2 separate regions of the Homo sapiens genome follow, and region 1 is linked to region 2. Evidence: fine-mapped expression QTL. A gene starts in region 2. The other region holds a variant in brackets. All regions are shown on one strand. Distances are between the middles of the regions. Region 1 overlaps ACO1 (aconitase 1). Region 2 holds the start of ACO1 (aconitase 1).

Evidence for each region. PIP is the estimated chance that this variant, and not a neighbour inherited with it, causes the effect.
Region 1: its variant is fine-mapped to the expression of ACO1 in hippocampus (GTEx, PIP above 0.99). The same link has a PIP of 0.9 or more in blood mononuclear cells, caudate, hypothalamus, nucleus accumbens, prefrontal cortex and putamen.

The regions. Positions count from the first base shown.
Region 1 is chr9:32,448,694-32,459,595 of GRCh38, reverse strand. It overlaps ACO1 (aconitase 1), which reads right to left. Exons shown (of 21, transcript NM_002197.3): 20 at 10,515-10,700; 21 at 4,827-9,598. The coding sequence ends at 9,485. RIGI (RNA sensor RIG-I) reads left to right here. Exons shown (of 18, transcript NM_014314.4): 17 at 82-225; 18 at 2,178-4,294. The coding sequence ends at 2,474. It overlaps LOC101060445 (a long non-coding RNA gene), which reads right to left and starts at 554. Exons shown (of 1, transcript NR_197444.1): 1 at 1-554. The variant A/T (reference allele first, on the strand shown) is at 5,246.
Region 2 is chr9:32,378,432-32,389,333 of GRCh38, reverse strand. ACO1 (aconitase 1) reads right to left here and starts at 4,691. Exons shown (of 21, transcript NM_002197.3): 1 at 4,599-4,691. RefSeq lists a silencer at 4,511-4,890.

The DNA of each region.
Region 1 (10,902 bases), 70 kb before region 2:
ATGTATTGTACGTATCTGTGCCTGTTTCTTGCTATATATGTTGTACTCAAATTACATTTGCGGTCTTTCTTTTTGCATTAGATTCTGCATATACAGACTCATGAAAAATTCATCAGAGATAGTCAAGAAAAACCAAAACCTGTACCTGATAAGGAAAATAAAAAACTGCTCTGCAGAAAGTGCAAAGCCTTGGCATGTTACACAGCTGACGTAAGAGTGATAGAGGTAAGCTGCCTTTTTACAAAGTGCCTGGTCATGTTTTAGCACTAGCTACAGCTTACTGTTGGTGAAATATTTATAATAAAACTACTATTATTTCCATTGTTACTGTGGCCATGATCTGTGTATTTAAAAAAAGCTAAGAAGTGAAAAAAAAATACTAAATGTTCAATAATAAAGAAATAGTTTTTGGCCAGGCATAGTGGCTCATGCCTGTAATCAAAACACTTTGGGAGGCCAAGGTGGGCGATCACGAGGTCAGGAGTTCGAGACCAGCCCGGCCAACATGGTGAAACCCCGTCTCTACTAAAAATAAAAAAGTTAGCTGGGCGTAGTGGCAGGTGGCTGTAATCTTAGTTACTCGGGAGGCTGAGGCAGGAGAATCGCTTGAACCGGGAGGCAGAGGTTGCGGTGAGCTGATATCGCGCCACTGCGCTCCAGCCTGGGTGACAGAGCAAGACTCTGTCTCAAAAAAAAAAAAAAAAAAGTCATGCTAAATGCAATGACGTGTCCTGGATTAGCTCCTGGAACAGATAAAGGATACAACTAGAGAAAGAGTGGTAAAATCTGTAGTTTAGATAATAGTAATGTACTGATGTTAATTATCTTGGTTTTGACAAATGTGCTGTGGTATATGAGATGTTAACATTTGGGGAAACTGGGTAAAGGGTATGCAGAAATTTTCTGGGATATCTTTGCAATTTTTCTTTAAATCTAAAATTGTTCCAAAGTAAAGTTTATTTTAAAAAATTATGAAGTTTATGTAGTATAATGAAAAACTGCTTACAAACTAATGGTAATAAGGAAAAAAGTAACCAGAACACAGAATTGTAAAGATGCTACTTTGTAGCTGTGTGAAACAACAGCAGCAAATACATTCATTGTCATTGTCAAGAGAAAAAGTCAAAAAACCTACCTTGCTACAGAAAAACAAAGGCTAGGGGAACTATACCAAAATGTATTAATATTTTGGTGGTGAGATTCCATGACTTTTTTTCTCTTTTCCTACTACCTTATGTTTTCCAAACATTCCTTTTGGGCTATGGATCACTTTTATAATGAAAACAAAATATCTCCTTATTTGTAAAATGTGACATCTGCAGATTAGCCTTCTATTGCAGCCTTATATTTCTTTCTTAAAACTTTCAGAGAAAGGGTTAGAAAAATCTCCAAAGAGAAATATGGGGTATAACTCTTGCATGGGGGGCACAGTGGAGGGGCTGGGCTGGCTCAGATGAGGAGTTATTACTTCAGGATGTTCCGTTCGTCTTCAGAAAGCAGAAATCTCTCATCAGCTCAGCTGTTTGGGCAAAAAGCCTATTAGGAGTCATATTGCTAAGTTCCCTTACCTTTCTAAGTCTGCTTCTTTAGCTGTAAAAGGTCCTTTCAGCTCCAATTTGGGTGATTGTTCTACTAAAAATGGCCCTTTTAGACCCTATGTTTTCCTGAGGGACTAGTATGTTGGATCTGCATTTGTTTCTGAGCTGTTTACTCTAAAGTTGACTCTAGGTGGGGCCTGTGGACACATTAGTCCCTGACCTTCTTCAATTGCATCTTGACCTTGGTCGTTTTCCCTGTATCCTTTGGATTGTGCCTGCCAGGGCCACTGGTGAACTTCAGCTTCACAAATTTTCAGCAAACATCGCTTCTGTTTTTGAATAATGAGTATCTACCTTCAGAAGCTGGGTTACCTGGAACCTTCTTAATCTTCTTCTTTATGAGGTGCCCAGTGTCCTCACTTGCAACCCCACCCTGCCTGTAGAGGGGAGTCAGGTGCATGGATCCTCTGGACTTTGGGTGAATCTATTTTTTTTTTTCCTCCAATTGTAAAATAAGTGAGACCCACCTGTTCTTTGCCTCAGATTATTGTGGGGTTTTCTTTTTTTTTTTTTTAAATCACAATTATGTACTGGTTCTAACGTTCTCTTTTGTGTGTTATTCCATCCCTTCATCTGTAGGAATGCCATTACACTGTGCTTGGAGATGCTTTTAAGGAATGCTTTGTGAGTAGACCACATCCCAAGCCAAAGCAGTTTTCAAGTTTTGAAAAAAGAGCAAAGATATTCTGTGCCCGACAGAACTGCAGCCATGACTGGGGAATCCATGTGAAGTACAAGACATTTGAGATTCCAGTTATAAAAATTGAAAGTTTTGTGGTGGAGGATATTGCAACTGGAGTTCAGACACTGTACTCGAAGTGGAAGGACTTTCATTTTGAGAAGATACCATTTGATCCAGCAGAAATGTCCAAATGATATCAGGTCCTCAATCTTCAGCTACAGGGAATGAGTAACTTTGAGTGGAGAAGAAACAAACATAGTGGGTATAATCATGGATCGCTTGTACCCCTGTGAAAATATATTTTTTAAAAATATCTTTAGCAGTTTGTACTATATTATATATGCAAAGCACAAATGAGTGAATCACAGCACTGAGTATTTTGTAGGCCAACAGAGCTCATAGTACTTGGGAAAAATTAAAAAGCCTCATTTCTAGCCTTCTTTTTAGAGTCAACTGCCAACAAACACACAGTAATCACTCTGTACACACTGGGATAGATGAATGAATGGAATGTTGGGAATTTTTATCTCCCTTTGTCTCCTTAACCTACTGTAAACTGGCTTTTGCCCTTAACAATCTACTGAAATTGTTCTTTTGAAGGTTACCAGTGACTCTGGTTGCCAAATCCACTGGGCACTTCTTAACCTTCTATTTGACCTCTGCGCATTTGGCCCTGTTGAGCACTCTTCTTGAAGCTCTCCCTGGGCTTCTCTCTCTTCTAGTTCTATTCTAGTCTTTTTTTATTGAGTCCTCCTCTTTGCTGATCCCTTCCAAGGGTTCAATATATATACATGTATATACTGTACATATGTATATGTAACTAATATACATACATACAGGTATGTATATGTAATGGTTATATGTACTCATGTTCCTGGTGTAGCAACGTGTGGTATGGCTACACAGAGAACATGAGAACATAAAGCCATTTTTATGCTTACTACTAAAAGCTGTCCACTGTAGAGTTGCTGTATGTAGCAATGTGTATCCACTCTACAGTGGTCAGCTTTTAGTAGAGAGCATAAAAATGATAAAATACTTCTTGAAAACTTAGTTTACTATACATCTTGCCCTATTAATATGTTCTCTTAACGTGTGCCATTGTTCTCTTTGACCATTTTCCTATAATGATGTTGATGTTCAACACCTGGACTGAATGTCTGTTCTCAGATCCCTTGGATGTTACAGATGAGGCAGTCTGACTGTCCTTTCTACTTGAAAGATTAGAATATGTATCCAAATGGCATTCACGTGTCACTTAGCAAGGTTTGCTGATGCTTCAAAGAGCTTAGTTTGCGGTTTCCTGGACGTGGAAACAAGTATCTGAGTTCCCTGGAGATCAACGGGATGAGGTGTTACAGCTGCCTCCCTCTTCATGCAATCTGGTGAGCAGTGGTGCAGGCGGGGAGCCAGAGAAACTTGCCAGTTATATAACTTCTCTTTGGCTTTTCTTCATCTGTAAAACAAGGATAATACTGAACTGTAAGGGTTAGTGGAGAGTTTTTAATTAAAAGAATGTGTGAAAAGTACATGACACAGTAGTTGCTTGATAATAGTTACTAGTAGTAGTATTCTTACTAAGACCCAATACAAATGGATTATTTAAACCAAGTTTATGAGTTGGTTTTTTTTCATTTTCTATTTGTATTTTATTAAGAGTGTCTTTTCTTATGTGATTTTTTTTAATTGCTATTTGATATGGTTTGGCTATATGTCCCCACCCAAATCTCATCTTGAATTATAATCCCCATGTGTCAAGGGAGGGACCTGACGGGAGGTGATTGGATCACGGGGGCAGTTGTCCCCATGCTGTTCTTGGGATAGTGAGTTAGTTCTCATGAGATCTGATGGTTTTATAAGTGTTTGACAATTCCTCCTTTACACACACTCTCTCTCTCATCTGCTGCCATGTAAGACTTGCCTGCTTCCCCTTCTGCCATGATTGTAAGTTTCCTGAGGCCTCCTCAGCCATGTGGAACTGTGAATCTATTAAGCCTCTTTTCTTTATAAATGACCCAGTCTCAGGCAGTTCTTTATAGCAGTGTGAAAACAGACTAATACACTATTGTTTAAGAACTCCAATAGGATGTGTAAAACATCTACTAGAAATAGATTTAATAAGATAAAAGTTATTATTATTATTTTTTTTTCTGAGATGGAGTCTCACTCTGTTGCCCAGGTTGGAGTGTAGTGGTGTGATCTCGGCTCACTGCAACCTCTGCCTTCTAGGTTCAAGTGATTCTCCTGCCTCAGCCTCCCACATAGCTGGGTACAGGCACCCACCACCACACCCGGCTAAATTTTTTTATTTTTAGTAGAGTCGGGGTTTCACCATGTTGGCCAGGCTGGTCTTGAACTCCTGACCTCAAGTGATCCACTTGCCTCGGCCTCCCACAGTGTTGGGATTACAGGCGTGAGTCACCATGCCTGGCCAAGAAAAGTTCTTTTAAGTATGTAAATGATTCAATTTGGATGAAGGTGAATAGCCCTATTCAGCCAACTGAGGCAGGCAGACTGAAGTGAAAATAAATAAGGAGAACTTAGCATTTCCTTGTTTGACTTTTAATGGAATAATGTCATTGCCAGGCATGGACTCAAACAAAGTAGGCACTTGGTTAATATGTATTGAATGAAAGAAATGAGCAGGTAGGCTTTTAGGAAGTGGATCTTTTGACTGACTCCCAAATGCTGGTCATTGCATTTCTAGAACAAAGGCCACATTTTAGAAACAACTGGGGAGTCTTTTTCATGGACACATGCCCAGCCCCATTAGAGCATCCTGGCAGGGTGTCCAGCCGTGTATGTTTTGAAGCTCCTGTGGTTCAGACACAACCTGTTACACAACTACCACCTTGTTATCTCTGTGGTCCTGGCCTGTGCTGATGCTGTGATATTTTCACCCTGAAATGAAGAGTCATCCCAACATCAAGGTCAGTAAACCAATTCCTGTCCTTAAAATGGATTC[A/T]TTATTATTTGAATTTCAAACAACAGACCAACCATAGCTCAATGTTTCTCAAGAGTATCCTGTGGAGCACAGTGCGTGAACGCCCAGAAGAAAGCAGTCTGTGGTCAGGTGGGTTTCTGTGCCATTTGCTGCCACCTTCCCTGCAAACAGTGATTTACAGCACACATTGTTCTTGTGTCTGTTCTGCAGTGATAAAACCCATTTAACTCAGTGGTTCCCAAATGTACTGACCGTGGAACTGTTTTACTCAGGGGACACTGTTAACATCCTGTAGAAGCACAGTAGCAGGTATCCAGCCTGCATACGATAAGACAACCAGAACCAAATTTGGCAGGTACATGTCTGGAACTCTGTTTCATTATGCCGTAAAATAAAACTACGAATTTCATTCAACAAATCTGTACTGAATAAGTAGGCTTCACTCTTGGGATGTCAACTTTTAAAACTTACTTAATATCAGCTATCGTTATATAATCTTTGTTCATAATGACGCTGTCTGGTTGAACACAAACTGGCTGGGTGTTAAATTCCACTTGTGTTTATGATATTTAATAATGTCCTAAGAAGGCAGCCAGTAGAACCTTGGCTACTGTTTTTCAAAAGTGGCTCTGCATTGCTCCTACATAACCCCGTACATTACTCCACAGTCCTGTTAGAGCCCTGAAAGGGAAACTGCTAAAAATAAGGTTCTTCATTTAGGTGACTAGGAACTCCCAATATTTTTGCCCTAGGGAATACTGGGAGACAAATCTCTACGATCACAAATTACTAATGGTTTCCCCAGAACTGCTGGTGGCCATATCCCCTGGCATGTGGAAGGGCCCAGAAGAGGCCACTCTACTGCAGAGGCCAACAGAAGGTATGATTGGTGGAGGGATGGGGGGGTGGTTGGAGGGGCAAATGGAAGGGAGCTTGAGTCACTAGATCCAATCAAGCCCATAGTCATGGCCACCACTGTCCTCAAGTTCTATGAGCCAGCTTTTTTTTTTTTTTCCTTAAGCTAATTTGAGCTGTGCTTCTACCACAGCTAAGATTCATGCCTAATATATCTTTTCCCTAGATTACTCCCTATGTACCATAAAAATCTGGTGTGTAAATACACATGAAGGGCATCCCTCATCCTTATTTGCTATATTAAAAATATTAACTAACTCTTAGCTTGCTGCGGATGCCAGGAATGCAGTAATGAATTTGGAAAACTATCCAAACAAACAGGGGAATCTTCATTCGCAAAGAATATGGGAGGGAGAACAGCAGATTTTTAATTTGGATAGTAAGACGAGCAGCCCTTAAAGAACCAGGTAAAAGAAGTTGGTTTATTTAGGCTTGTTAGTGGGCAAGGTTGAGACACTGGCCAAGATACTTTTTTTTTTGGGGGGGGGGGGGGTGGTGATTGATTGATAGGGTCTCACTCTATTGCCCAGGCTGGAGTGCAGTGGAGCAATCATAGCCACGACCTCCCAGGCTCAAGTGATCCTCCCACCTCAGCCTCCTGAACAGCTGGGACCACAGGTGCACACCTGGCTGATTTATTTTATTTATTTATTTATTTATTTTTTTTTTTGTAGAGTGTTGCCCAGGCTGGTCTCAAACTTCTGGGCTCAAGCAACCCTCCAGCCTCGGCCTCCCAAAGTGTTGGGATCATAGGCATGAGACACCGTGCCTGGCGAAGATATTTTTACCGAAAAGGACAGAGGGTGTACTTGGAGGTAAGGGACCCAATTCCATTAGTCTAGCCACAATAATGTGTTTGTTTCCTCATAACCACAGTCTTGGTTGGGCTGCTGTAACTAAATATCAACTGGGTGGCTTATAAACAATAGAAATTTCTCACAGTTCTGGCTGGAAAGTCTAGGTTCAAGGCACTGGCAGATTCAGTATCTGGTGAGAACCCACTTTCTGGTTCACGGATGGTGACTTCTTGCTGTGTTCTCCCATGGCAGAAGAAATGAGGGGGTCTCTATCTTATCTTGAGTCTCTTTTAAAAGGCACTACCCTCATGATCTAATCACCTTCCAAAGGCCCCAGCTTCTATTACCATTACCTGGGGGGTTAAGGTTTCACCACCTGAATTTTGGGGAGGATACAAAAATACAGACCACAGGAGCCACTGAATGCGGGGAGCGAGACAGCTCCCCAGCTGCTCAGTAATGGAGAGCTGAGAGGGTGGAGGTCTGTTTTCTCAGCCATTCTTAGTGTTTTTATTCTAGGACTGATCTTAACTTGAGGATCACAGGTTTTTTTGTACAATGGAGTTCTGTTTGTTTGTAATTTTTTTTTTTTTTTGAGACGGAGCTTTGCTCTTGTAGCCCAGGCGGGCGTGCAATGGCACGATCTCGGCTCACTGCAGCCTCTGCATCCCGGGTTTAAGCAATTCTCCTGCCTCAGCCTCCTGTGTAGCTGGGATTACAGGCACACAATACCACACCTGGCTAATTTTTTGTATTTTTAGTAGAGACGGGGTTTCACCATGTTGGCCAGGCTGGTCTAGAACTCCTGACCTCAGGTGATCTACCCACCTCGGCCTCCCAAAGTGATGGAATTATAGGCATGAGCCACTGCGCCTGGCTGTTTGTTTGTAATTTATTTTTTAAATGAATATAAATAAGATCCCCAGGACCGCAAGTGCAGGGATGCTAAATAACCTGTCTTGATCCCTCATCTGGTGAGAAGTAGAAAGAGGATTAGATTCCAGATGTTCTGATGACCAGGCCATATCCCCTGAGTGCTAAGGTTGACATTAAAAATTCATTACAAAGATCCTGCCCTCCTGTCCTTGGACATCACAGCTCCTGCTTGTTCCTGGGCATTCAGACTCTGGGACTTATACCAGCATTCCCCATGCCCCTCCCCAGGTTCTTAGGCATTTGGACTTGAACCAAGTTGTTATACCACCAGCTTTCCTGGGTCTCCATAAGAGTGGGACCCTGATCCAATACAATTAGTGTTGCTGTAAGAAGAGACATGAGAGCCTATTTTCTCTCTCCCCCACCAGGCACATACCAAAGAAATGCCATGTGAGAACAAGCAAGAAGGTGGCCATCTGTAAACCAGGAAGAGTGTCCTCACCAGAAAATGAAGTGGCTTCAACTTTGATCTCAGAATTCCAGCCTCCATAACTGTGAGAAAATACATTTCTGTTCTTTCAGCCAGTCTATGGCATTACATTATAGCAACCCAAGCAAACTAAGGCATGCCCAGAAATGACTACAGGGGTAAAAATGAGCAGATAATTGGTTTTTAGTGTCCTGAAGTTTATCTGCTTTTCCTTATGTACTTATATCGTTGCCACTGCCACCAGGCTACTCTTCCTTCTTGTCTGCTCCCAAACAGGGAAGAGCGAGCATAATGGTTCCTAAACATTTCCGTTATACCCGTACAGTTCTGATAGAGTTGTAAAAATGGGAGAATATGAAGGTTATTCAGGCTTCCCAATGATATGGTGTGAGATTCACTCTGTACTAAATATCCCAAAACTCTAGCCACAAACACAGCAAAACTCAAAGTCAACAAGTTTTCACTGAAAATAGATTTCATTTCATTCAAATTAGAAATGTGTTCTCCCAAACCGCCTCCCAACAAAGGTCTCTGCTTGATAAATGAAAAGATAGTAAAAGAAAACTTCACATTTCTTTTTATGTGGATCTATCAAAAGGTACATAATCAAAACAACTTTAACACCCGACCTATCCATGAGGAGTCTGGATGATTCACTCTGAAGGAAAAGGGGAGAGAAGAGAGAATCACTGCTCTGATTTGAAGTGTGCAAAGTTCTTATCTATGTCACTTAACACTGGTATAATTAATACAGAAAGGAAAATGACCCTCAAGAGGAAGGTTTCATTGAGCAGAGCGTAAGAGGAACAATAAGAGGGTAGGAGACACCTCCTGAGAAGGTTTGCTTGTGTTCAGCTGAAGATTAATAGGAAACAGTGAAAAAGCAACGTCCTGTGATCAGTAACTTTAAAGACAAGCTTGGTTCTCTCTTTCTGGCACTACTGACATTCCCACCATTCTAGCTTCCAAATTCTGGAAAAAGAGAAGATGATTAACAAAAATAGAGAATGTAGAAACTTCTGGTTTTGTGCCTACAGGATTGGCACCAGACCCTCAGTGCTCACTTGCTCCATCTACAAGGCAGCACCCCTCCCAGAGGCAGCCAGGGAGGCCTCTCCACCAGGGCCTGCGCTGGCTGGTGGTGCGGCTTCCTCCCTGGGCGCAGCACCAAGTGCACGTCTCCTACTTGGCCATCTTGCGGATCATGTAGTTGAGGATGCCCCCGTTGAGGAAATAAGTGAGCTCCACATCAGTGTCAAACCTCATGACAGCCTGGAAGGTCTTGCCAGTATCCAGCTGTGGCACAAAGAAACAGAAGCATCATTGAGGGAGGTGGCGAGACAGCTCTGCTCGGAGGAAATTCTGCCCAGCCTGCCCCTCAGGTGTGGTCCACACTTCAGTAACACCAGCAGCACATGAGGACATGCAAGGCTGCTGGCCCCAGCCCAGACCCACTAAATCAGAAGATGCATTTCAGCAAGATCTCTGGGAGGCTGCTTTGCCCATTACAGTTTGAGAATCACTGCAGACTGTAAATGATGGGGGTGAGAGCCATCTAAGAACTAGAAATAGCTTCTCAGGGCAGTAGCTATTAATGACATCAGGGTGGTATTTTCTAAACCTCTGGGGGCTCCCTGTGGACAGAAGTATTCAATCAGCAGAGATTTCATTAAGGTTGTCCCTTAGGCAGCTGGCCCATCTGCTTATCTGAGACACAGACTTTTGCACTGCCTCTGTCTGGGGCACCGAATGACCCCTGGGACCTGGTGCTGGGCACTTTATCTTTACCTTGCCTAGGGATCTATCATTTTCACTCTTGGGCTAATCAAAGCCTGGTGCCTATGGGCAGGCTTAGGGAGGGGTGAGTATATCTGTTGCTCACGTTTTTATAGTGAAATGTTTTAGGTAATGTGAAATGTCACATCCCTGAGCTCTCATCACGAGAGACCGGGAACAGGGTACAGTAGGGGGTGGGAGGTAAGAATGGAACTGAGGATAACTCTGTGAATAAACAGAGAAATTAAATCCATAGGCATCATCCTATGCTATGAAGGCAGGTAGAAAAGATGCTAGTAGGCCTCCTAAGTCTAATGCAGTCCTCCTGAGTGATATTTTTTGCCTTCTAAACCTCACTAATTTCCTTCTAACAAGACTGGTTACAAACGAGGGGGCCCCTTTCGACAGGGCCTGGCATAGAGAGGCTCCAGCTTACCTTGACCTGGACTTTCATTTGTGGTTTGAGGTTTTCTGGAATAATGATAGTGTATCGTTCTTGCCCTGTGAGCCCCAGGGCATCTGCATTCTCACCAGGGAGATATTCAAGTGGGATCACACCCATCCCAACCAGGTTACTGCGGTGAATGCGCTCGTAGCTCTCGGCCAGGACGGCTTTGATTCCCTGATGAATAAAGACAGTAGTTTAGACATACTTCCAATCTTTTCTTTGGATACACAGGTTTACAAAAGACTTTGTGAGAGAGCTGGCATGATGGCCGAATAGGAACAGCTCCAGTCTGCAGCTCCCAGTGAGACTGACACAGAAGGCGAGTGATTTCTGCATTTCCAACTGAGGTACCCGGTTCATCTCATTGGGACTGGTT
Region 2 (10,902 bases):
GATAAGCTAAAATGAAGAAAATCTAAAAAGCAAGTGTGCTGTATCACCTAGAGAAAAGCACTCAATGTTTTGGCATATCCGCTGCCTTTGTACATGCAGGGGCACACTCGTACATATATGCACATGCTTTCTCTCCTCAGAAATACAGAATCACAGGGAAATACTGCTGTGTAACATGCTTTTTTTAGTTTAAAAACTATACAACACTATTTTGTAACACCAGTGTAAAGGCTGCACAATAGCTTGCTAAGGAACACTTTGAACTAGTATTACTAACCCTGGACAAGAGTCAAACATTAATACTGTTAAATAAAATGTTTTGACTTGAGAGTCTCTCTCTTATTTTTATACTAATATTATATATACAAGTTCAGAGCTGTGATATGACAAAGCAGTTTTTTTTAATTGGGGGAGGAGGATGGTGGCAACATTCCTATCAGAGAAATAACTCTATTTTCCTTCCGAAAGTATACGTTGTTGGGATTTTAGGTTTACTATGTTGTAAAAGCAATATATGAATGCTACAGGCTATCCTCCCTTATAAGATAGGCACACATCTGTTATTATGAAAAGTAACAAAAGTTCTCTGGCTTCCTTCTACCTCATTCCACTGCCCAGAACTGGCTACTGGTCTATCTTCTAAACATTCATGATGCTACTTTAAATACATGGAATGGAATATGTAATGACACATGCACACAACTTATGTACACATAGATGTACAAATATGCATACACACAGGTATACACACACAGTGTACTCTACAATGTATCATATACATATATAACGAGGATTTTTTTTTTTTGAGACAGGGTCTTACTCTATTGCCCAGGCTGGAGTGCCGTGATGCAATCATGGCTCACTGCAGCCTGGACTTCCCAGGTGATCTTCCTGCCTCTGCCTCCCAAGTAGCTGGGACTACAGATATGTGCCATCACACCTGGCTTTAATTTTTTTCTGTATTTTTGGTAGAGATGGGGTTTTGTCATGTTGCCCAGGTTGGTCTTGAACTCCTGGGCTCAAGCGATCTGGACTCTCAAAGTGCTGGGATTACAGGCGTAAGCCACGGTGCCTGGGCCTTTCCATCCTTTTTAACATTTCCTTTGTCTCTGCCCCTGGAATCAAGACAGCTCTTAGAGACACTACTAGTTTTTGCATAATAATATGCAAAATTCACACAACGGGTTAGACTGCAGGTACATCCATTCTAGCATAACATCTGAGATGGCTCCAGGGAGGGAGTTGGGAATAAGACCCATATGTGGCTCTGTCCTCAAAACTTCAACACACTTGGCCTTCCTTTAAACAACCTACTATGGAGTCTTCCATGATTGATTCCAAATCCTCTACAGTTACTACTGCCCGCTACGTCCATCTTGGAGACTCAAGTTTCTGGTATTCACGCATAAAGTCCTGAAGAATCTCCTTTTCCATAAAACTCTCTCTTTGAAACATGGTTCTTGTTCTGATAGTCTAGGTCAGGAGTCTGCAAACTATGGCTGGCCCTTGTTTTTGTAAATCAAGTTTGACTGGAACACAGCCATGCTTGTTTGTTTGCATGTTGTCTATTGCCGCTTTCGTGCTTCAACACCAGAGCTGAGTAGCTGCAATAGAAACTGTATAACCATAACCCAAAAAGCCTAAAATATTTCACTACCTGTCCCTTTACACAAAAAGTTTGCTGATCTATATTTTAGAATATGATGAAAACAGATTTTTTTCCTTATCAAAAATTTTAGAGGACTTGAATCATACACCCTATATCTAGGATCTTTGTCTAGGCTAAAGAGTCTGTTTTCTACTAAAAAAACAAACCAAAAGCACCTTGGCTCAGACAATAGCAGTGTCAGCTGGCAAAGGTTTAACAACTTGAACTCCAAGAGGAAAAAAAAGCTCTGATGTAGCATTTGCCAATTTCCATGGTGTTATTATTCCCACCATGGCTTATTTCAATCTAAAAAATGTGTTGCCACTGAACACGGAGTTAGGAAGAGATATGCACAAATGCTAGTATAAACCAGCTCTGAAACCACTGGCTCCTTGGGACACTTACTATCAATGGCCTAACTCCTCATTTTAAAGTCAAAGACACTGAGACCCAGAGAAAGTGTCTTAACCCGAGGCTGGCCCAGTGACTGGCACCAGGTTGGAGGTAATTTCCCTGTGAATCTGGCTGCCTCACAGGAAATTACTTCCTATGTAGAAGGAAGAGTGGGGGAAAGAAGGCAAAGGAAGTTCTTTGCCAGGCACGTGGTGATACACGTTGGTTTTTATCATCATCTTCACAGTGTGGGACTGGTTTCTTCAGCACATGCCTTTGAAGCACACTTTAGGTAGGGGGTACTGCTCTTCACACAGGACCAGCTTTCATGTACACACTCTGACTATATAATAGACTATCTCAATTAACCAGCAGTTATCAAAGCTATCAGACCATAATTGCCAGAAAGACAGGGACTGCATCTTTTGTGCTCACTACTTTCCTGGCATCCCGCACATAACTGGACACATGAGAAATAGGTGGCCAATAAAAATCTACTGAAAGAATGAAGGAATGAGACCCCACCATCAAAGTGGAATTTTTTAATACAAAGAACACAGCAGGTGCTCAGAGTTTAGATCCCATTTCCTTCTCCTGTGGACTTCTCCTCCTCCTCACCTGTGGACTGTGCAACACACACAACACGCTCATGTGCATGCAACATTTCTCAAGTATCGGCTGTAGCATTTAAACTGATCCATCAGAGCACAAGAGGCTCTATGGATGAAGGAACAAAAGGGAGGATGGAGTTAGAAAATTTCTTCCTCCCAAATATATACACATAACATCTGTCTTGAACTTGTTCTGACAAGGCACGAAGCTAAGGAAAGAGTCCCGTGAAGGACCTCACCTACCACACTCCAGGATGGTGGAAACTGCTTTTTGACAGGGGCTGAGGAAGCACCACTCAGAGTGACACCCTCTGAAAGTGGAAAGTGAAAGAACGTCAAGACTGGAAATCATTATTCCAATAAACTCAAGGCTAATAACCATGCAACTGCAAACAGAAATGAACACGTGCAAGGGAAGGCAAAAGCATGCCTCCTTGTTCTTTTGGAAATAACTTCCTGACTACTTGGTAACTCTCACAGGAACCCCTACACACTTGGCATGGTCTCCCCACTGGCACTTTTGTGAGCCTACAGGTCCTGTTTGCCACATCACTGTTGTAATCCTGATGCACAGACAGGTCAGCTCTGCAAGCACAGAGACAACCAAAGGCATGTGCGAAGCCTTGCTGACTTTTCAGGAGGCTGGCAAGGTTCATCACAGCCTCACGTGGGGACCTAGTACATGGTTTCCAAAGTGAGATCAAACTTGGTTCCAGATACCAGAGGTTAATACTGTCCATGGCATGAGGTGGTGTGTGTTCCCAATCAGAGGAAGGATCACAAACAAGAAGCAGGCCCAATGAATGAAGCCTCTGAAGCATTTCCTACACCAGCATCCTCAAAGTGTGGTGCAGAGAACTCCTAGGGATCTCCAAAGTCAAAACCATTTTCCTAGTAATAAAATGTTACTTGCTTTTTTTCATTCACACATTTTCAGGAGTATACAGTGGAGGTCTCAAGAGGCTACATGATATGTGATATTGCAACAGACTGCAGAAGCAGCTATCAGAATCCAGCTGTCTTCAATTACGCTTGACATCAAAGAGATTTGCAAAAATGTAAAACAATGCCACTCTTCTCAATCATTTTCTGTTTTGGGAAATATAGTTCTTTTTCATAAAAATAGGCAATGTTAAGATATAATTAGTTCACTATTCTTTTTAAATGAATTATTATAGTACAAATTTCTCAGTCTTACTTACATATTATAAATATGGATAGATATAACACACATAAAAGCTCCTTAAGATACTAATTTTTAAGAGTGTAAAGGAGTACTGAGTACCAGAAAAGTTTGGGGACTTCTGTCCTAGAGGTTGTCCCCCAGGGAAGAGAGTTACATGTGTTGCAAGAAGGAAGATGCCATTATGATGTGCTAGCTGAATCTAGAAAAAAATGACTTGGTCATAACTGCAGCCCAAGCTCCTTTCTAGATCTCTGAATCTATCATGGTGGGCTCTGTGTTCAAGCCTCCCACGAAGGGTCTCTTCCCCCTCATCCCATTTTCCCTTTACCCCTTGGAGTGGATTCCCGGATCTGCCCGCACAACTTTAGCAAGGGTTTCCCTATCCAGCCAGCCGGGCCTGGGCGAGGACTCCCAGTGCGGGCCTCACACCCTCGGGGTTAGGACTCCCAGGACTGGCCGCACACCCTAGGCAAGGACTTTCAGGACAGCACGCACAGCCAAGGCTAAGAAGGGTCTAGGAAAGCCACTTCCAATCCCTGGTTTCTCTCCCCGGCATGACATAGACTGGGGACAGGGTGGAGACGTCAGTCGCCAGAAACACGTCCCCGATTCTCCTCTCAGCCTCCCCAAGCTCGCCTCCGTGTCCCCCGTGCCGCCACTGCCTCGGGCACCTCGGTAAAGGCCCGCACCGACTCTCGAGGGATACAGGGTGGACGGCGCTCCCGCCTGGGGACGTGGGTCGGGCCGCGTCGGTACTCACCTCCGACTGCACGGCGGGGCTCCCGCGACCGGCGAACCTGACCCAAGCAGCGGGACGCGTTCCCGTGCGCTGCGCGGTTCCAGCTGCCGCCTCCACGCTCCGCCCCCTCTCGCCCCCGGGGCCGCCGCGCGATGGGCGGAGCAGGGGCGGGAAGGGCGGAGCAGGGGCGGGACGGACGGGCAGCTAGCCGAAGAAGGGGCGGAGCCTGCGGGCGCCCCCGCGGGCCTGGAGGACTTCGCCCCGGGCTGGAGGCTAGGGTTGCGAAGGGCTCCTCCGCTGGAAGTGGGAGGGCTGATCCCTCGGCCCGGGTCCGCTTCTGCCAGCATGGGACCTGGGACGAGGGTGTCTGTTGCTCACTTTGGAGCTTAGCATGTGACTCCCCAGCCGGCGTTAGGAAGTGACCAAAGGGTGGGGAAGAAATGGAATTATTTTTAAAAAATGATTTGGCCATAACTGGAGAGGCTTCATGTACGTGTGGTCACTTGGCCCGCCTCCCTTCTCACTTTGTCCGTCCCCACCCTACCCACCCTCTCCACCCTCGCCTTAATTCTTTGCGCAAAGCCTGCCAAGTGGACATCGGAGTCACGCTGTCAGAATAGGACTTCAGCATTTCCGTGGCAAAAGTTCTATATGTAGATTTCCTTGGACATGTAACAACACTTTCTAATGCACGATGTTCACCGGTCTGAAGTCGGAGAAATGGCTGGGAGATGGCAGCAAGTGGGCTTTCACAAGATCTGCTTTTCATGTTGGTAGGAGTTGTGCCCTCTTGGGTGAATGGCGTTCAAAGAAGTGATTAGATCTTTCTAGATGAAAGGTGGTGAGGTTTTCCTGCCCAAATTATTTGGAAAGTTACTGTAGTTTTCTGAATAAGCAGCTTATAGGATGAGTAAACAATAGCCAGTACTAATAGCCCCCCTGCTACTTTATACTGCCCTCCTATTCTGCACAAAGCCCTGTGATCGACTCTTTCCACGTTATTCAGTTCAGCTCTTCCAACCACCTTACAAGTAAAGAATATTACCCGTCTTTGCAGGTGTGCAATGCGCAACAGCTGAGACTCAGTCCTTAGGTTGGTTTGACACCAAAGCCTACACCTTCCCTGTCATACTGCACTATAGGGTACAACTATCGTCTAGTTATATTTAACTTTGAAATATAAATACTTATATTTATTTTGAAAGGGGAAGTAACTGTATTTCCAATATGAGAGGAGACTGTTTTCCCACCCACTTCCTAAATCCTTTCCATTCACATTAGTAATTAAATTTTCTTTGAATGTCCACCATATGGCAGAGGTGCACCACAATCCCTGAAAAATCATGCTCCAGTCCCCTTGGGAGGTAGGGAGAGTAGGGGCAAGGTGAGAGTGAGTAGAAGGCTGGGGAAGTCCGATGAGGACACATCCAGCTAAATTGCGATTCTTAATGAGGCAGCCATTCGGAAAGCAAAGTATCTAATGTTCAATGATAACATCCGTGTAACTGAGAATCCTTCGCAGAAAACAATCAAATCAGAGCTATGAAGGGAATTGAGATTTATTAGTAAGCACGCTGGTCAAAACCGTGAAGGAAATAGTTCCACATCCCCCCAGTCTGTTGCTCTTGGACGTTGTCACCAGTGACGTGCAGATCGTGAATCCCAGGGCCTGTCCTCTGTTCCTGTCCTTACTCACTACTCTGTGGTATTTGACACTGGCGATTCGTTTTCCTAGAAATGTTAACCTCCTTTTGGCTTTTCAGCCCTCCGCTCTTAGGAGTCACCTCTTCCCTCTTTTGTCCCTCTTTTTTAAGGTCTTTCCCTACACTCTCTCCTCTTGCTTTATATGTTTCTCCATTTGCTGAGTTTTTCTTCATCTATTTTCTCAGTATGCAGACTGCCTGCCACTTCTAGCTGAAGCCTGCTATGTCTCTGTCATTGGTCTTAGTTAACTTTCTGACCTTCACACTCTTGATTTGCAGCCATATGTGGCAACCCCACCTGGATATTCCAAAGGTGTCTGTATTAGACCGTTCTCACGCTGCTGTAAAGAACCCTGAGACTGGGTAATTCATAGGGAAGGAGGTTTAATTGGCTCACAGTTCTGCATGCTGGGGAGGCTTCAGGAAGCTTACAATTATGGCAGAAGGGGAAGCAGGTATGTCTTACCTGGCAGCAGGCAAGAGAGTGTCCTCTGAATGCACAGTGGTCCTCCTGAATGCTTTGAGGGGACCTTAGAATCCCTAAATTTTTCACTGAATATATGTCTTCATACCAGAGAAAATTTGAAATAAACGTTTTGTTCCTCTTTAAGAAAAAAAGAGTTAAATTCATAACAAGGAGAGGCAGGTCTTAGCCTCATCTTGGCTCCCGGTAAATATCCAACGGCTCTCCCCTGATGCCCTCTTCCCACCACACCTGCTATACGTTTAATTTTCGTGCTCTCTTAATTACTGCCTAAGGGCCTGATCCCTGAGCTGCCTTCCCAGGGAACAAGAATCCTCTGGGCAGCTGCTTACAGTTTCTCTCAGTATAGCTAATAATAAAAATCATCCCCATGATCCAATCACCTCCTTCCCTCCACAGGTGGGGATTACAAACCATATCAGTGCCTGTCATTCATCACATCTAAAATGGGAATTTAGTGTCTTCTCTAACCATCTGTCTCTCCCCTCCTATCCATTTAGTTTCTTTTTCATCCTAATCCTGCATCCCGAATTTGTATTTCATGATCTGCTGAGAAAGCTAAATGTTTAAGGGGTATATTGCCATGGCATATTACTACGCTCTCACAGGGTCCACCTAACAAATATTTCTGTCACGATATAAAAGGTTCTGCTAATGGCCCAGCTGAGGGCATATACTCTAGGGACCTTCAGAGAGGATGCCACCCAAGCATGTAACTGCTCAGGCACCCCAGCTGTGCTCTGGTGGGGGGCAGAGGCAGAAGGACCTTCATTTGAAGTAACAGTATTGTTTTAGCAGCCTTACCTGCTAGAAGGCTCTGCTGCTATAAGAAGAACCATGAAGATTCTGCCAGAGACCTGTTGAGCTCTGAGGAATGCCTCATCATATTCCACACCGATTTCAGTTACTTGTATATGCTGGACTTCCTCAGTTTATTGAAAGGTCCTAGGAACTATACCCAACTAACTTTGTATCATGCTTTACAATTTATACTGCATTTTCACATACATGTCATTTAATAGGAAGGGAGAGGTGTAAGAGAAAAAGTCAAGCATAACGCTTCTCAAACCTTGGGGTACATTGAAAACATGCGTGCCTGTGTTGTGCTCTTAGGAGGCTGAGTTTGATGTGGGTGGTCAAAAGACCATGCTTTGAGAAACACCAATGGTAGTTCTCCGAATCTGGGTGTTTCTCAGATTTACCATAGGGCACTGATAAAAATATAGCCTCCTGTATCCTCTGCCTCCTAGAATGTCTGATTCATTAGGTCAGGGTGGGGGTCTGTGTTCAGATTCTGAATACGCTACATTTTTACCACAGGTGATTCTGCTGTAGCATGTCCCCAGATTGGCACCAAAGACCTGTTACCTAGAAATATACACTCCATGAGGGCAGGGGCCCATGTCAGTTTGTTCATCATCCCTAACATGGAGTCTGGTGCATAGTAGGTGCTCAATACAAGTTTGTTGACTGACTTACTGTCAGTGTCTTTCTATTGCTTACCCTTTGCTCTCTGTTGGCCTTTGCGCTGTTCAGAGTCCTCTAGAGTGGCACGGAGGGAAGACATCTGTTTGGCAATGAATGAAGTATAAAATGGTCCTCCTGAATGCTTTGAGGGGACTTTAGAATCCCTAAATTTTTCACTGAATATATGTCTTCATACTAGAGAAAATTTGAAATAAATGTTTTGTTCCTCTTAAAATCAAAGTTATATTCATAACAAGGAGAGGCAGGTCTTAGCCTCATCTTGGTTCCCGGTAAATAGCCAACTGCTCTCCCCTGATGCCCTCTTCTCACCACACCTGCTATACGCTTAATTTGCATGCTCTCTTAATTACTGCCTAAGGGCCTGATCCCTGAACTGCCTTCCCAGGGAACAAGAATCCTCTGGGCAGCTGCTTACAGTTAAGCACCATTCCTCTCAATATAGCTAATAATAAAAATCTTCACAACCGCCTGTTGATGCTGGTAACATTGTTATTGCCATAGTTTCACAGATGAGGAAACTGAGATTCAGAGTAGTTACACAGAATGCTTCAGTCATGAAACTTAAAGGGTGATCCTGGGGTTTTAGAGAAGGCTGGCCTCACTCCATAGCTTGTGCTTTTAAGCATTATGCAACAAAATCATCAGATACCCTGAAGCTGTAAATTATTTGTTCTTTGCAGAAGAGGGACTTAAATGTTCTAGAGAAAAGATTTGTTCTATCACCATATAGGCTGGAATTCCTTATTCACGTATTTCCAGGGCTTGTTCTCCCTGATGATAGCACAGAGATCCCTGCTGCAGCCATGTAATGTAGGGACACCTGGGTAAAGAGAGTCCTCATTCTGGGGGATGGAGGTGTTGGAAATCAGGGGCAGCTTGAGTATGAATTCCAGGATTGGTACATAATTCCTAGGTGTCTAGTACCATCTTTCACATGTGTTAATTTGCTGGATACTTTTTGAGTACTTTGTGTTATATATTTTTCAGAAGGGAGAGGGAAGTACTCTGCAGGATTGGTCCTTTAAATTATTTAGGTATACACAAAATAAAACATTTTTTTCAAGAAAATAATTTGGTAATGTTGACAAATGAGAGTAAAAATAAAAATTTGTCACTAATTTGACTCATTTCTAATTCCAGTTTATGATGAGATTACTTCCACATGTCAGTTTAAGTGCTTTTTAAATTTTCTTCTTGAGACAGGATTTTTCTCTGTTGCCCAGGCTGGAGTGCAGTGGCAGGATCACGGCTCAATGCAGCCTCGACCTCCTGGGCTCAAGCAATCCTCCTACCTCAGCCTCCTGAGTAGCTGGGACCAAAGGTGTGTGCCACCACACTCAGCTAATTTTAAAATTTTTTATAGAGGTGGGATCTCCTCATGTTGCCCAGGCTGGTCTCAAACTTCTGAGCTCAAGCAATCCTCCTGCCTCGACCTCCCAAAGTGCTGGGATTACAGGTGTGAACCACTGTGCCTGGCTCTAAGTGCTTTTTAAAATGGAAAATCCTCTTTCCCTCCTCCCTTGCCCCATCCTTGGTGGGAGGAAACAGCAAACATTTCGTCTGTTCCAAGTTCATCCTTCAAAGTACCATGCAGATTAACTTAACCAGATGATGGTGAGCTACTGCCCTCTGTTGATGAGTGTGTGGTAAACACATTGTCAAACAGAAAAAGCTGAGAGGATGGTTAGCATTAAGAGAAAAAACAATTGGGCGACAGAGTGAGAACTTGTCTCAAAGAGAGACGGAGAATAAGTATTAAGAAGACATAAATGGATTAAGAAAGCTACCTTTTGTTCCTTAATTTCACATTTACTGACTGTCCTAGAAGTTAGAGAGCAGAAACTTAATCAGTCCACAAACTGGCTCTGCTAAGAGCTTGGTGTGATGAGTCCAAAAATGACTATGATTAATTCTTACTCTGAGGGACCTGAGAACTTATTGTTTTATTATTTTCCCACAGCTTTACTGATATTATTTTAATGTTTGCCCACGATAGTACAGCATTCATCTTTCACATATCAAAATCTAATGTTAATTGTTATTTTTTATCTTTTTTTCCCCAGATAATTCCAGGTTCTTACAACCTTCTAACTTCATGTACCCTCCTTTTGATTTCTATGCCATTGTTATCTTGTATTTTATAGTCACACATTGTAACTCTTGAAGGCATTATTATTTCTGTTTATAGGGTCAATATTTGTTTAGATTCAAGCATACTTTTACCATTTTTGTTGACTGCTTCTTAGTAGTTCCTCTCCTCCCTTCTCCCATACTTGGTGGGAGGAAACGACAACAGACGACACAGAAAGATACATTTGTCTGTTACAAGTCCATCCTTGAAAGTACCATGCAGGCTAACTAAACCAATGATGGTGAGCTACTGCCCTCTGTTGATGAGTATGTGGCAAACACATTGCTAGCCGTAAAAAGCTGAGAGGATGGTTAGCATTAGGAGAATCAATAATTGGGTGACAGAGAGTGAGACCTTGTCTCAAGAAAAGACAGAATAAGTATTAAGAAGAAAACATTTTCTACTGGTGATAAATATTCTCAGGCTTCATTTGTTGTGAAATGTCTTTATTTTACTGTCTTTATTTTTTATTTATTTATTTTTGAGACGAGTCTCGCTCTGTTGCCCAGGCAAAAGAGT